Regions from separate parts of the Homo sapiens genome. Here region 2 is linked to region 1. The links come from fine-mapping of genetic effects on gene expression. Tissue or cell type: prefrontal cortex. Region 1 holds a variant in brackets; the other region holds the start of a gene. All regions are shown on one strand. Distances are between the middles of the regions.

Region 1 (8,149 bases):
CTTGACCTCAGGTGATCCACCTGCCTCGGCCTCCCAAAGTGGTGGGATTACAGGCGTGAGCCTCTGCATCCGGCCTAGTGTGGTGTTCTGATGTCTAGGCAGTGGCTTTGCTGTGTCCTTCCTGTCAGGGTCCCCGGCCCGTCACACACTTGCTGCTTTGTACTGTGCTGCCCTCCCGTCCTGCTTTAGAACACACAGAGTTTGGGATGCGGTGAAGCCTGAACAAGTTTAAGGAATGAAATGGGAAGAAACAGATGAGGCATGAGGGTGAAGGGATGAAATTTGGACCGTGACTTAAGGTGGGGACAGTGAGAAGGGGAGGCGACAGTGACGGATTTGGACCCAGCCGTGTAGGGAAAACCTGTGCCCATTTCAGTTGGAGCGTCCCGCGTGGCAGCAGCGTGGGAGGCTGAGGGTACGAGGGTGTCGTGCACCTTCTCTTTCAGGATCCTGAAGAGCATGGTCGTGGGCTGGGTGAAGGAGATCACCCAGTACCACAACATCTATGCAGACAACCAGGTGATGCACTTCTACCGCTGGCTTCGGTCGCCATCCTCTCTGCTTCATGACCCTGCCCTGCACCGCACACTCCACAACATGATGAAGAAGCTCTTCCTGCAGTGAGTGCTCCTCCTCCCTGGGCTGTCCACCGCGTCCTCAGCTGGGCTGGTCCCTTACTCCCCAGAACCAGAGACATGGCCAGCCAGTGCCTCTGGGATAAGTAGTGTATTTCTGAGTTTGTGGAGCATAACAATCCAAAGGATCCCAGAGAAACACGCAGCTGCTGCTGCAGCGTCGCCTGCACATCCTGCAGAGAACACTAGGTGGCACCTCCTCTCCTGCCCCTTTCCTGCACAAAGTCATGCTACACATTGTATTGCTGTGTGCCTTGTTGTTTTAGTGAAAATATGCCTGTGTCAGGAGATCTGTGTGAGGACATGCCATATGAAAGAACATTTAGCCTCTCTCCAGCCTTGTGCCGTTGTTACAAATAGCAAATCAGTGAGAGGCTTCATGCATGAGCTCATGCAGATAGATCCGTGGGGTAATTGCTGGGGCGTAGCCCTCTTGCAGGCCTCAGAGGTGTTGTAACTCGGGATGAATCCTGATTTGATGGACTTCACCAGAGCGGCCCCACAGAGGCCCCTTGTGGACACTTCTTCCCTGGCCGCGCCTCACCAACATGGCCGGGGATTATTACCCAACTGCTGGGATAAAAGTGCTTCTTGGTGCAGTCTTAACTTAGGATTCTTACAATGAATGAAGTCGAATTTTCTCTTCTAGTCCTTTGTCTATTTTTCTGTAGTTTTGGTGGTTCTTCTCTTATTAAATATCGAATGAGTTGTCTCCATACAAAAAGTTGCCATTTTTCTGTGATAAGAATTTGCTAATTTTTTCCTGTTTTTGGTTATCTTTTGCCTTTGTTTGTGGTGGATTTTTGCCATGCAGAAATCTTTGCTCTTCATTAGCTTCTGGGTTCTAGTGTATCTCGGAGGCTTTTCTGCTTCAGGACCCTCAGCTCTTTTCCCTCTTGGATTTTCTGGGTGCCCTCTGGCTCTCCATGACTGTGGCGTCTCCACCACGGACTCTCAACTTGCTCCACAGGCTCATCGCTGAGTTCAAGCGCCTGGGGTCATCAGTCATCTACGCCAACTTCAACCGCATCATCCTCTGTACAAAGAAGCGCCGTGTGGAAGATGCCATCGCTTACGTGGAGTACATCACCAGCAGGTGCGGCTGGCTGGTCCTGGTGACGCAGCACTGTGGCTTTGAGAGGGATGCTAAAATGACCCCCTGAGGTGCCAGCTCTCCTCCTGGGTGGGCTGGGAGGTCGTTAGAAGTGCAGGACTCACCATGGTGAATCTGAGCAGCGTGAAAAGGGGGTTACCGCCACCTGTGCGCGGTAGCAGATCGGAGGCCACTCAGCTGTGCAGCTTGAGTTGGGCAAGTTCAGGAAGTGGCCTGCCTTTGCTAAGAAGGTTCCACAGTGATTTTTGTTTGTTTGCTTTTTTTCCCCATGGATATTCAGGGCACAGATTCAAGGTGCCCTGAATATATGCACCCCGTAAGTGTTGACGTTGTAAGCCTTTTCATAGACGTCAGTGTTGGCGAGTGGAGTGGTGTGGTTCCCGGGTGCTCAGGTGTGCACAGCTCTCAGCTGTCAGAGCCTGGTGTGGTTTTGACTTCCTGCCTTCCAGGCCATGTTCCTGAGGTTCCCTCCTAGGCCTTGCTGTGCTTCTCACACACTCAGCACTATTTAAATCTAAATAGAAGACAAAGCAACAGAAAAATCTCCACCAGCAACTTTTGTTCAACTGATAGTAGGAAGCTCCCTCCTAGGTGCGCTCACCCTGGGGATGAATGCAGCCCTTTCTGAGCACAGAGGGGAGTTGCTTGTGGAGGCACAGAGAGTCTGCATGGGTCTGATCTTTGCATGGTTACAGGGGTAGCATCTGGGGGCGCTGCAGAAAAGGCTGACACTAAATTGATAATAGGCCTTATCACTGAGAAGTAGGAAGGTAGAGCTTATAAGACTTTCATTCCTAATCAAACCATATGCACTGGATTAATTTGAAACACAAAAGCACTGTTGTCCTCCTGCAGACCCACTGTGGCCCCTTATGTCTATCCAAGATGAGCCTTGATGGTCAGTGGTCACGCTGTGTGCCTGGGAAAGCTGGCTTGGGCTAGAATTGTATTTCGGAGCATGGCTGAGATAATGGGAAGGATGTGCCTCTCCCCACGTTGGCCATGGGCAGCTCCAGGGGTGCCCTGTACCTGAGGAGGCCGGGGTTGCTCATGTCGAGAAACAGGCTGCTATTCTTCCTTAGCGCGAAGAGCAGAGTTAGGGAGAACATAAAGTTCTCCTGCAGGAGCTGCGATGTGGGCTACTCAGCTGCATTTTGAAACTGTGATTTAGGATGTTCCTCCTTCCTTCCTCTCTTTCTTTGTTTATTCTTCCATTTTTTGGGGTTTTGTTTGTTTTTTAGGAGATGGGGTCTTGCTCTGTCACCCAGGCTGGAGTGCAGTGGTGCAGTCATGGCTCACTGCGGCCTCAAACTCTGGGCTCAAGCTATCTGCCCACCTCAGCCCACTGAGTAGATGGGACTAGAGGTGCATGCCAGCATGCCCAGCCAATTTTTGTATTTTTTGTAGAGACAGGGTTTTGCCACGTTGCCTGGGGTGGTCTTGAACTCCTGAACTCAGGCGATCCTCCTGCCTCAGCCTCCCAAAGTGCTAGGATTACAGGCGTGAGCCACCGTGCCTGGCCTGTTCTTTTTTTTTTTTTTTTTTTTTTTTTTTCCTTAAATGGATCTAATGTGCAGAGGATTGGGTCAGCGCTAGGGAGGCTTAACCGAGGAGTGACAA[G/C]GATGACGATAGCTTAAAAGAGCTTGGCAGTGGGAAGCACTGTGGTTGGTTACCAGCAGGTGCAGGTCACCTAAGGCCGCAGAGCAGAGGCAGAACACCCTGTGGGCCATCCCCAGCACGAGGAGGCACCCAGCTCTCTTTGTGGCGCCAGCTCCCAGGGGCCTGGTGGGCCTCCTTAGTTTTACGTTTACCACATTTCCCCAGGAAGCCTGAGGGATGATGTGGTCTGAATGAACTTTCAAATTCAGTGTTAAGTAAGTGGAGGGTACAGATAGATACAAGGGGAAATAAAGGAAAGTTGAGAACAAGGTCGATTTCACTGAAGCAGCGTCTTCAATGCTTCCTCTGCAGCATCCATTCAAAGGAGACCTTCCATTCTCTGACAATTTCTTTCTCTCGATGCTGGGAATTTCTTCTCTGGATGGATCCATCTAACTATGGCGGAATCAAAGGAAAAGTTTCATCTCGTATTCACTGTGGACTGGTAAGCGAGCTGCAGTGTGGCACCCGAGCCAGCTTTGGGGGTCGCGTTCATTCCTGCAGCAAGTGCTGAGTGCTCAGGGCCCCGGCGGGCCTGGCCGTGAGCAGCAGACACTGCACCCGCATCCTGCCCTCATGAACACGGGGAGGGACCATGCGCAGACAAGCACGTCAGTGTGGAGTGTGGCGTCAGCCCTGGTGATGGCAAGGCTTGCCGTGGGCAACAGGGAGGTGGAGGCCCATGAGGTGGTGACAGGGAATCCGAGAGCTGATGAAGTGCACCATAGTTGTGCGAGCATAAGGCGCCTCCAGCGGATGGACACCAGGGAGGCAAAGCACAAGTCAGTGGAGCAGTGGTTGCAGATGCAGGCAGAGAGCTGACAGAGCCAGGCAACTTGGGCATGGCAGGGCAGGGCCTCGGCTTTCGTGGGGATGGGAGCTTCTGTGTGGGTGATGTTGGAGCTTTCTTGGCCCCATGTGGATAACCCACCATTGGAGGGCACAGGCAGGTAAAGCCGGTTAGTGCCTGTGTCAGGGAGATGCTGGGCAGCGAGGTTGGTGAGAAGGGCCTGGGTGGGCTTTGAAGTGGAGCCAAGGGGCCAGCGGATCGGATGTGTGTAAATGCCCAGGTGCGGGCCAGGCTGTGGGTGAGTGGAGGTGGCTGTCGGGAGCAGTCTGGGGAAGGGGTCACGTCTGGCTGGGGCTCATGGTGTTTGCAAGGTTGAGACGTGGGTGGTCAGCTGGTGCAGGAGTGGCCAGAGAGTGGCTGGGTGGGTTGAGAGGAGGCCTGTGTCCTCCACAGGGGCCCTCATAGTGGACTGAGAGGAAGCTGTGGGTACCAGAGCCAGGGGCTCAGATGTCAGAGGGAAAGCCCTTTGTAAGGACGCAGACGCTTCTGGGAGCTGGCAGGATGAAGCCAAGACTGCCCAGGACACCTGGATGGGAGCGATTCTGGTTGGAGTTGGGGGATAAACCCTGATTGAAGGGATTCAGAACAAAGTGGGAGGGTAGAAACTCAGGCAGTGTAGACCGCTCTGAGGAGGGGATCAGCGTGTGGTCAGGGCAGGTGGCAGTGGGTGTCGGTGTCTACACAGACGTGGATGGTGCCGTGGCACGAACACAGGCTGCGCGGGAGGCTGGGTCTGTGATGGGGTCGTGCCGTCCCAGGAGATTCATGGACTCAGAGGAGAGAACAGTCACCGGGAAGCTCTGGCTGGTTCTTTCGTCCTTGGGGGGTGGGAGTTCAACAATTAAAGTGAACTCTGGAAGAGCAGAGTGAAGCTCACAGTCCCAGGTCACGAGCACTTCTGTGTGCCAGGCGCTTCCCACAAAGCACTTTGTACTGGGAGCCACCCTGGGGGATTCACGCAGGCTCCAGGGGATGCCTTGACTGCGAGGAAGGCCTCTGGTCAAACGGGGCAGATGGACCCAGGTTGGAGGAGCCTTCGCTGTGGCATCCTACCCCTCTACCAGGCCGCGATGGTGCAAACACAGCCGCGTTGTCTCATGTGTTACAGCAAGACTCCCAGAAAGCAGGGGGAGCAGAGGATGAGCAGGAAAATGAGGACGATGAGGAGGAAAGAGATGGGGAGGAGGAGGAAGAGGCGGAGGAATCCAACGTGGAGGATTTACTGGAAAACAACTGGAACATTTTGCAGTTTTTGCCACAGGCAGCCTCCTGCCAGAACTACTTCCTCATGATTGTTTCAGGTAAGCCCAGAGCCCAGGGCTGCGCAGCCCCCACTGAAGGGACTCATGGTTAGTAGATGTGGCTCCTGTGCCATGGTATCGCAAGAAGGGAGACAGGGAAAATCAGATCGGGCGGAGCCTGCCCAGCAGTTGGGACTTTGTGAGCCGAGGGGCCTCCTCTCCAGGCTCCAGGCATGTTCCACTGGAGGGCCCGGAGAGGGGTGACTGTCTTCCCTCCAGCCTTTGCTCTCAGGAAACTCCATGGGGAGCGGCTGCCCCTGGCCGTGTCATTGAGGAGTTTCCTAGCTCTGCTCCCGCCATCTGATTCGGTAACTCAGTCACATACATTCCCAGGGAACATTTGTGTGTGTGCACGTTCAGTAGCTGAAGATAAAGCCCTGGGTCAGGTCAGCTGCCCCCTGGCTGGTCTGTGAGGCCTAACTTTCTGGTGGGGGAGTTCCTATGCCTTGGTTTGGGTCTGCAGGCTTAGAGTTTGCAAATCAAGCTATGCAGGTTAGTGTGCAGATGAAGTGTATCGAGGAAGCACTGTTTGTAGTTGACAGCCCTAAGTTAAAGAATGCCCTAAGTAAAAACAGCAGGTTGTGATGTGCACACACAGGTGGATGCGGTCACAGAGGCCTTCGTTGATGATCATTTTATATTTTTGTCTACTTGTCCTTGAGTCTTTAACTTTCTCAGTTCTCTCTTGCAACTTTCTATGTCTCTTTTGAAAAGTTCCGGGTTGGCCGGGCGCAGTGGCTCATGCCTGTAATCCCAGCACTTTAGGGGGCTGAGGCGGGTGGATCACGTGAGGTCAAGAGTTTGAGACCAGCCTGGCCAACATGGTGAAACCCCATCTCTACTAAAAATACAAAAAGTAGCCAGGTGTGGTGCGCACACCTTTAATACCAGCTACTCAGGAAGCTGAGGCAGGAGAATCACTTGAACCCAGGAGGCGGAGGTTGCAGTGAGCTGAGATTGCGCCATTGCACTACAGTCTGGGCAACAAGAATGAAACTGTGTCTCAAAAAAAAAAAAAAAAAAGGGTAAGTGCCAGGTGACAGGCCCGGAGTAGTTTTTGGAGAAGCTTGCTGATGCCAGGGGCCCTGCCTTTGCTTGTGTTGGGAGCTGTCTTTCACGCGCTACCCAGTGAGAGGCTTAGTGTACATGGCCCCATTTATACAGTTTTCTCTCTGACAATGAACTCAGGTGTCAGCGAGTGTTCCTTCTCATTTCCACTTCTCACTTCTCTAATTTACTTTTAGCTCATCTAAAGGCTGCAGATAAAATTATTAACAATGACATTTTAGCCTCATCTGTGAGGCAATCTGACCAGCCATGGGTCCCCTCAGATTCTAGGGTGTTTGCAGCAGCCCGACTCAGGGCCTGTGGTGTGTGTGCCTCTCCACAGCGTACATCGTGGCCGTGTACCACTGCATGAAGGACGGGCTGAGGCGCAGTGCTCCAGGGAGCACCCCCGTGAGGAGGAGGGGGGCCAGCCAGCTCTCCCAGGAGGCCGAGGGGGCGGTCGGAGCCCTTCCCGGTGAGCAGTCTTTTGTCTTTTGAGGCCACTGCCATGTGCCAGTGACCTAACTCCTCTGTGTGCCATGGGTGGTCCCCGGTGCCAGTCCCCCAGGTGGGAGGTCCCCAGTGCCAGACAGGTCCCAGACCCCTCCCTCAGCATCCTTATACTTCCAGGAATGATCACCTTCTCTCAGGATTATGTCGCAAATGAGCTCACTCAGAGCTTCTTCACCATCACTCAGAAGATTCAGAAGAAAGTCACAGGCTCTCGGAACTCCACTGAGCTCTCAGAGATGTTTCCTGTCCTCCCCGGTTCCCACTTGCTGCTCAATAACCCTGCCCTGGAGTTCATCAAATACGTGTGCAAGGTGAGAGTGCCAGCGTGCGTGTGAGGAGAGGACACTAACGTACATGTGTAAGGCGAGAATGTTACTGTGTGCAAGGTGAGGCTGTAATGCGTGCACCATGAACGTGCTAGCGTATGTGTGCAAGATAAGGACACCGACATACCTGTGCATGGTAAGGATGTTAATGAATGCAGGATGAGGCTTTCAGCTGTGCAAGGGGGAGGTACCTACATGTGTAGGGTCAGGGTGCCAGCGTGTGCAAGGTGAGGAGCAGGTGTAAGTTACTTGTTCATTCCACCAACATTTATCATGTCCCTGTCACATGCAGCCACAGTTGCGGCATCTGTGCTCAGGTGTGAGCAAGACAGGAAAGGTCCTGCCTTGTGGGGCCTGTCTGCTGCCAGCCGACCCGAGAAGGGAGAGGGCCGTTCAGAGGCGCAGGTGCTGTGGGGATGGAGCCTGTGAGGGGCGCTGGGACCAGGTGCAGGAGGAGGGAAGACGCAAAGGCCCTGGGGGGTGAGCTTGGTGTGTTGGTGAAGGCACAGCCGAACACCCAGTGCCACCGGCTGGGAGGATGGGTCACCGGAGACCAGTAGGCTGGACCAGGACCCAGAGCTGATGAGATGAGAGCTTGCTCGGATGCTGAGGCCTTTCTGGGAAAGGCAGGCTGAGTCCAAGGAGGGATAATATTACCAGATAACGACCGCGGGTGTCAGCCCTTACAGAGCAGAGTGCTTCAC
Region 2 (8,181 bases), 51 kb before region 1:
GTGAGATTCCGTCTCAAAAAAAAAAAAAAAAAATTAAAATAACAATAGAAACTAACTGGTCAAATTGGAGTCAGTTTTCCCTTTCCATGAGCCCAGTCTAGGACGCTTTCAGGGTTTTTGAATCCTGAAGTCTGACTTTAGGTTAAGTTGAGTTACTTGTCCTCAGGTTTGCCTCTCAGCCCAATTAAGACAGTCACCCCTACCCATCCAATTAAAAAGAAACATGATAAAACCACAAATGTGAGCCTGTACTCCTAGCACTGTAATCCCAGCACTTTGGGAGGCCAAGGAAGGTGGATCACTTGAGGTCAGGAGTTCAAGACCAGCCTGGCCAACATGGTGAAACCCCATCTCTACTAAAAATAACAAAAATTAGCTGGGCATGGCGGTGTGTGCCTGTAATCCCAGCTATTTGAGAGGCTGAGGCAGGAGAATCACTTGAACCAGAGAGGCAGAGGTTGCAGTAAGCCTGGGTGACAGAGTGAGACTCTGTCTCCAAAAAAAAAGAAAAAACAAAAAAAACCACGTATGCGTATATATGCCATACAAACTATATGAACCATTCGAGTTTTTTCCCATGATGATTACTACAATGGTTTTTAAAAAATTATATTTCCAAATAAGAGTACTCCAACTACTCGGTTTTGGTGCCCAGCTTGGTTGCACTCAGCGGCTACAAGGTAAACCCACCCCTTGTATGGCACTCACCCGTAAACGGCATATCTCAGAGGCCCACCGACATCCAGACTTCTAGAGTTTTCTTTTTTCCGCTTCTTCTCAATCATCTGGGCCAGGAAGTTCCCAAGTGCTGACAAAATGCCACTGTGGAGAGGGAGGTCATCAGAAAACAGCAGTGACCAGCAGGAGGGTGTCCCTTTCCCATAGGTGAATTAGCAGGGCCGTTCTGAGGCCATGCAGCAGATGGGCGGGGGGTAGGAATTCTTGTTAAAGCGGCTGCAATGTATAGTTCTTGTATCAAAAGGTGGAGACGGTGGACTTAAACACACAGGTAAGGACAAGTGGCTTTCCAGTATCTATGTCAACATCCTGGCTGTGATGTTATACTATAATTTGGCAGTTTGGGAGTTGGGAAGCTGTGTGGTTATGAACGGGCAACAGGACAGCCCTATCATGACGCTGTTCTGCATTTTGACTGTGGTAGTGAACACAAGAATGTACAGATGTGATAAAACTGTACAGAACAGATACAGCTACAAGAAAAATGGAGAAATCCGAATAGGATCTGTGGACTGTGTCCACGCAATGCCCTGGTCGATACTGCACTACGTTTCACAGAATGTAACCAATGGGGGACACTGGGAAGGTGTGCAAGGAATCTCTCCATGTTAGTCTTGTAACTGTTTGTGAATCTACAATTATCACAATAAAAATTTCCATAAAAAGGTGGAACAGGCCCAGTGGCTCCCTCCAGGCCTTGGTTTGTATTTGCCTTCTGAGAAGCTCTCTGGACTATAAAATCCAAAATTCCTAGCACGGACCTAGACACCTTCTCGATCAGATCCCTGGCGATTCCCTTCACATCTCCTGCCTCTTGCTCAGGGTTCACTTTCTCCACACACAGATCTTCCCTCCCTCGGGACTGAGTCCAAGCTGCACCTCTCTCCGCCTTTCTTTAACGCCGGCCTTCCCTTCAAAACCTAACAGAGACCTTTGCCCTGCTGTTCCCTGTGCCAGGAGAGCCTCTGCTCCACTTCTTTACACAGCCTGTTCAATGTCACCTTCTCAAAACACCTTCCCTGGCCGTGTCTCCACCCGCGCCGTGCGGACCCGCGCCCCGCAGACTCGCTCCCTTGGCCCTGTCTCCACACGCTCCATGTGGACCCGCTCCCCTGGCCCTGTCTTCACCCGCACCACGCAGACCCGCTCCCTTGGCCCTGTCTTTACCCGTGCCCCGCAGACCCGCTCCCCTCGCCCTGTCTTCACCCGCGCCCCGCAGACCCGCTCCCTTGGCCCTGTCTTCACCCGCGCCCCGCAGACCCGCTCCCTTGGCCCTGTCTCCACCCGCGCCATGAGGACCCGCTCCCCTGGCCCTGTCTTTACCCGCGCCCCCAAGACCCGCTCCCCTGGCGCTGTCTTCACCCGCGCCCCGCAGACTCGCTCCCTTGGCCCTGTCTCCACACGCTCCATGAGGACCCGCTCCCCTGGCCCTGTCTTCACCCGTGCCCCGCAGACCCGCTCCCCTGGCCCTGTCTTCACCCGCGCCCCCAAGACCCGCTCCCCTCGCCCTGTCTTCACCCGTGCCCCGCAGACCCGCTCCCCTGGCCCTGTCTTCACCCGCGCCCCCAAGACCCGCTCCCCTCGCCCTGTCTTCACCCGTGCCCCGCAGACCCGCTCCCCTGGCCCTGTCTTCACCCGCGCCCCCAAGACCCGCTCCCCTCGCCCTGTCTTCACCCGTGCCCCGCAGACCCGCTCCCCTGGCCCTGTCTTCACCCGCACCACGCAGACCCGCTCCCTTGGCCCTGTCTTTACCCGTGCCCCGCAGACCCGCTCCCCTCGCCCTGTCTTCACCCGCGCCCCGCAGACCCGCTCCCTTGGCCCTGTCTTCACCCGCGCCCCGCAGACCCGCTCCCTTGGCCCTGTCTCCACCCGCGCCATGAGGACCCGCTCCCCTGGCCCTGTCTTTACCCGCGCCCCCAAGACCCGCTCCCCTGGCGCTGTCTTCACCCGCGCCCCGCAGACTCGCTCCCTTGGCCCTGTCTCCACACGCTCCATGAGGACCCGCTCCCCTGGCCCTGTCTTCACCCGTGCCCCGCAGACCCGCTCCCCTGGCCCTGTCTTCACCCGCGCCCCGCAGACCCGCTCCCCTCGCCCTGTCTTCACCCGCGCCCCCAAGACCCGCTCCCCTCGCCCTGTCTTCACCCGCGCCCCGCAGACCCGCTCCCCTCGCCCTGTCTTCACCCGCGCCCCGCAGACCCGCTCCCCTCGCCCTGTCTTCACCCGCGCCTGCGGACCCGCTCCCCTTGCCGTGGCTTCCCCGGGCGCGCGGGGCCCCTGTTGGGTCCTTGGGTGGAACCTCAGCGCCGACCCCCGGGTCTGGGCGGGCCCTCCACGCGCTGGGAGGGCGGGATCCGCAAGGCGCCTCACAATCGCTGACTGCGGACGCGGGTGTCGCCGCGGGAAGTTCAGCGCCGGGTCGGAGGGCGCCCGCTCCGGGGGTTCTGACCCGGGCGCGCCCCCAGCCTGGTCCCGGCCCGGCGCTCCCGTCCAGGCCCCGCGCCGCTGCGGCCGACCTGGGGCCGGGGCGGCGTCCGATTCCCGCGCCCCCGCTCACCTGGTGGCCGCCTTGGTGAGCACCGGGTAGAGCCGCAGGAAGAGCAGGTACTGGGCGAGCGCCCGCCGCGGCAGCGCCCCGAGCCCGGCTTCGGCCCGCAGCCTGGACGCGGCCGGCGCCATCGCCTCCCCAGCGCCGTGCCGCCGGGGGCACCGACCCCACCTCAGGCTGGCCGGGCGCGGAGCCCGAGGCGCCGAGAGCGGAGTGGGGACCGCCTGACATTTCCGGCCCCACCGCGGCCCGCAGCGCCGCCCGGTCCCAACCCCACGGTGCGCCGCGCGCGCCTACCACACACTTTTCCCCGGTCCCTGCCGGCCACCTCCCCCGCCGGGCGCCGGCGCCAATTGGAGCGCCTCGGGGGGCGGGGGAGGGGCGGAGCGCGCCTCTTGATGGACGGCGGCATTTCCGGCTCTCGCGAGTCTGGGTGGGAGCGCGCCAAATTTCTCCCCTGAAGCAGAGGTGGTAGCCAACGGCTCCATGTCTCTGAGGAGCGGCGGGCGGCGGCGCGCGGACCCAGGCGCGGATGGCGAGGCCAGCAGGTGAGGGGCGCCCTCCTGAGGCTCTCGGGCCGGCCCTCCGGAGGGTGCCATGGGGCCGTCCTCGGCTGGCGCCGCCGAGGCGGGAGGGAGGCCCGGTTCCCGCAGCCGCCCGCACTCGCCGCGCCTGACTGGGGTAGGGCGGCGCGCCCCGACCGCCGACGGAGGGGCTCGGGGCGGGCGGAGGCGCTACGGGCGCGGCTTCTTTGCGGGGAAACGAGGCGGGCCGCGCGGCCTTTCCCTGCTCGGCTCTTTCTGAGGTTTTTCGGGCCTCGCCTTCCGCGCAGCTGCGTTTGGGACCTGCCGCGCGGCGGGGGCGATGAGAGCGGCGGGACCCGGGCCAGGCCCTGCGGGGTGGACGCGCGGCTGGGGAGGGTGCGGGGAGGGGCGGGGCCGGGGACCCTGCCTGGGGGCCTAGCGCTGGGGGAGGCCGAGGCGGGCGGATCGCTGGAGCCCAGGATCCTGTTCTAGATCAGCCTGGGCTACAGAGAGAGACCTCGTCTCCTCTGTTTTATTTTTTTGGGCAGGGAGTCCCGCTCTGTCGCCCAGGCTGGAGTGCAGTGGCGCGATCTCGGCTCACTGCAACCTCTGCTTCCCGGGTTCAAGCGATCCCGCTGCCTCAGCCTCCCGAGTAGCTGGAATTACAGGCGCCCGCCACCAGGCCCGGCTAGTTTTTGTATTTTTAGTAGAGACCGGGTTTCACCATGTTGGCCAGGCTGGTCTCGAACTCCTGACCTCAGGTGATCCGCCCGCCTCGGCCTTCCAAAGTGCTGGGATTACAGACGTGAGACTCCGCGCCCGGCCCTTCTCTTGTAAAAACAAGAAAAATTAGACAGGCTGGTGGTGCGCGCCCGAGGTCCCAGCTATTAATACTCCCGAATCCGAGCCGGAGGTTCACCTGAGCCCGGCAGGTCAAGGCTGCTGTGAGCCGGGATCGCGCCACCGCACTCCAGCCTGGGCGACGGAGCCAGACCCAGTCTCAAAAAAAATAGAGCAAGGATAAGACGCGGCTGCTTGGTGGCCAGAGCAAACGGTAAACATGACCGGAGGACTGGCCTGCCATAAGCAGAAAACGGATGAGGCCCGGCGCGGTGGCTCACACCTGTAATCCCAGCACTTTGGGAGGCCGAGGCAGGAGGATCACCTGAGGTCAGGAGTTCGAGACCAGCCTGACCAACATGGAGAAATCCCGTCTCCACTAAAAAAATACAAAATTAGCGGGGCGTGGTGGCGCATGCCTGTAATCCCAGCTACGCAGGAGGCTGAGGCAGGAGAATCACTTGAACGCGGCAGGCGGAGGTTGCGGTGAACCGAGATCGCGCCATTGCACTCCAGGCTGGGCAACAAAGAATGAAACTCTGTCTCAAAAAAAAAAAAATAGAAAAAACGTGTGAGAACGTGAAGCTTTTTACAGACACTTAGCTGAACAAAATTCTTCCCAGAGGAGAAACCAAGTGGTAAGGATCCCTAACTGCTGTTGTGCTCATCGCTGTCTGTCCATATCAGGCAAGCCCTAGAGAGGCAGGTACCCTTAGGGTCTACATGGTGTGTTGGAACTTGGAGCTTAGAGACGGTTACTGACTGCCCTGCTTCAGGACACAGGACTGCACTCACGTGCTCCACTCCACTGCCCTGCCCCAAGCTCAGTGATGGCCTCCAGGCAGGGGGAAGGCTGCTGCTGGGATAAGTACAAGTGATGGCTTTTACCTTACATGCTTTATGTGGGTTACCTCATCTCATCCTTAAAACAGTCCTGGGAGGTGAGTGTGCCCCAGGAGGCAGTGGGTGCTGTTTGCCTGCGTTTCTTCTTGTGTGAAATGGGGACACCAGTGGCCTCCCTCGTAGGGGTTGTCATGAAAACTGAATGAGAGCATATGTGGAGTACTGGGACGGTGTGATACAGTAACCAGTCAATGGTAGCTCTCTGTGAATGAGAGCCTGTGTGGAGTACTGGGACAGTGTGATACAGTAACCAGTCAATGGTAGCTCTCTGTGAATGAGAGCCTGTGTGTAGTACTGGGACGGTGTGATACAGTAACCAGTCAATGGTAGCTCTGTGAATGAAAGCCTGTGTGGAGTACTGGGACGGTGTGATATAGTAACCAGTCAATGGTAGCTCTCTGTGAATGAGAGCCTGTGTGGAGTACTGGGACGGTGTGATATAGTAACCAGTCAATGGTAGCTCTGTGAATGAGAGCCTGTGGAGTACTGGGATTGTGTGATACAGTAACCAGTCAATGGTAGCTCTCTGTGAATGAGAGCCTGTGTGGAGTACTGGGACGGTGTGATACAGTAACCAGTCAATGGTAGCTCTCTGTGAATGAGAGCCTGTGTGGAGTACTGGGACGGTGTGATATAGTAACCAGTCAATGGTAGCTCTCTGTGAATGAGAGCCTGTGTGGAGTACTGGGACGGTGTGATATAGTAACCAGTCAATGGTAGCTCTGTGAATGAGAGCCTGTGTGGAGTACTGGGACGGTGTGATACAGTAACCAGTCAATGGTAGCTCTCTGTGAATGAGAGCCTGTGTGGAGTACTGGGACGGTGTGATACAGTAACCAGTCAATGGTAGCTCTCTGTGAATGAGAGCCTGTGTGGAGTACTGGGACGGTGTGATACAGTAACCAGTCAATGGTAGCTCTCTGTGAATGAGAGCCTGTGTGGAGTACTGGGACGGTGTGATACAGTAACCAGTCAATGGTAGCTCTCTGTGAATGAGAGCCTGTGTGGAGTACTGGGACGGTGTGATATAGTAACCAGTCAATGGTAGCTCTGTGAATGAGAGCCTGTGTGGAGTACTGGGACGGTGTGATATAGTAACCAGTCAATGGTAGCTCTGTGAATGAGAGCCTGTGTGGAGTACTGGGACGGTGTGATACAGTAACCAGTCAATGGTAGCTCTCTGTGAATGAGAGCCTGTGTGGAGTACTGGGACGGTGTGATATAGTAACCAGTCAATGGTAGCTCTGTGAATGAGAGCCTGTGTGGAGTACTGGGACGGTGTGATACAGTAACCAGTCAATGGTAGCTCTCTGTGAATGAGAGCCTGTGTGGAGTACTGGGACGGTGTGATACAGTAACCAGTCAATGGTAGCTCTCTGTGAATGAGAGCCTGTGTGGAGTACTGGGACGGTGTGATACAGTAACCAGTCAGTGGTAGCTCTCTGTGAATGAGAGCCTGTGTGGAGTACTGGGACGGTGTGATACAGTAACCAGTCAATGGTAGCTCTCTGTGAATGAGAGCCTGTGTGGAGTACTGGGACGGTGTGATATAGTAACCAGTCAATGGTAGCTCTCTGTGAATGAGAGCCTGTGTGGAGTACTGGGACGGTGTGATATAGTAACCAGTCGATGGTAGCTCCCTGTGTGACACTTATCCCCATTTTTCAGATTTCTTACTGTCCCTGGATTAAAAGTGAGATACACAGCTCAGAGAAAGCAGTTTTGGGAGGAAATATGGTCCCAGTGAGCAGTTTTCTAGTCTACTTAATCCAACTTACTTGAGGCAAGGATATTTGGAGGACTGGCATAGAGGGCCGTGCGCCCCTGTTAAGAGGTGATGCCTCGTAAATAGCACTTCATTCACTCTTGATTTTGATAAAGATCTGGGACTCAGAACTGAGGCTGTTCTCTAGCAAGATTTGGAATATAGTTTTTCTGTGTTTTTGATTACGGGTGCATTCAACTATTTAAAAGATTAAACCTTTATTATACAGTATGGTGGTGTATCAGTTTCCTATTGCTGCAGTAACACATGATCACTTAGTGACTATATAAATTTATTCTCTTACGGTTTTAGAAGTCAGAAGTCGTAATATGAAAGTGTCTGGTTGGTTATATTTATTGTGATGGTTCCCGGGGGAGAATCTGTTTCCTTGCTGCTTCTTCATCTTCAGAACCAAGGGTTGCATCTCCTCTCCCCCCTACCCTCTCTCTCCCATCCCTTTCTCCTTCCTGACTCTAGCTCTCCTGCCTCACTCTACAAGGATTCTTGTGATTACACTGCGCCCACCCAGCTAAGCAGAATCTCAAGGCCCTTAATTTAGTCAGATCTGCAAAGACCCTTTTGTCTTGTAAGATAACATTCACAGGTTTGGGGGATTAGGATGTGGGTCTTTCATGGGGGGTGTCATCCTGCCTGCCTACCACAAGTGGTTATAATCTTTCATGAGAAGTAAGGATCCTAGTCTTGGAATATGGTCATTCTGCTCTTGAGTTGAAGGTGATCCAAGGAATACCTTCAGACAAAGGAAGGGTCTTCCTTTCTTTTTTTATCTTGTTCTTTTTTTATTTTATTTTTTTTTTAGACGGAGTCTCGCTCTGTCGCCCAGGCTGGAGTGCAGTGGCATGATC

Evidence for each region. PIP is the estimated chance that this variant, and not a neighbour inherited with it, causes the effect.
Region 2: PXMP2 starts here. The variant in region 1 is fine-mapped to the expression of PXMP2 in prefrontal cortex (GTEx, PIP 0.96). The same link has a PIP of 0.9 or more in skeletal muscle.

Annotation. Positions count from the first base shown.
Region 1 is chr12:132,631,596-132,639,744 of GRCh38, reverse strand. It overlaps POLE (DNA polymerase epsilon, catalytic subunit), which reads left to right. Exons shown (of 49, transcript NM_006231.4): 40 at 447-620; 41 at 1,606-1,731; 42 at 3,721-3,853; 43 at 5,367-5,559; 44 at 6,950-7,081; 45 at 7,237-7,430. Among named protein-coding and RNA genes, the nearest start is that of P2RX2, 17 kb to the right of the region's middle. The variant G/C (reference allele first, on the strand shown) is at 3,370.
Region 2 is chr12:132,682,904-132,691,084 of GRCh38, reverse strand. It overlaps PXMP2 (peroxisomal membrane protein 2), which reads right to left and starts at 3,498. Exons shown (of 5, transcript NM_018663.3): 1 at 3,293-3,498; 2 at 709-822. The coding sequence starts at 3,414. It overlaps POLE (DNA polymerase epsilon, catalytic subunit), which reads left to right and starts at 3,743. Exons shown (of 49, transcript NM_006231.4): 1 at 3,743-3,831. The coding sequence starts at 3,770. RefSeq lists a silencer at 2,983-4,292.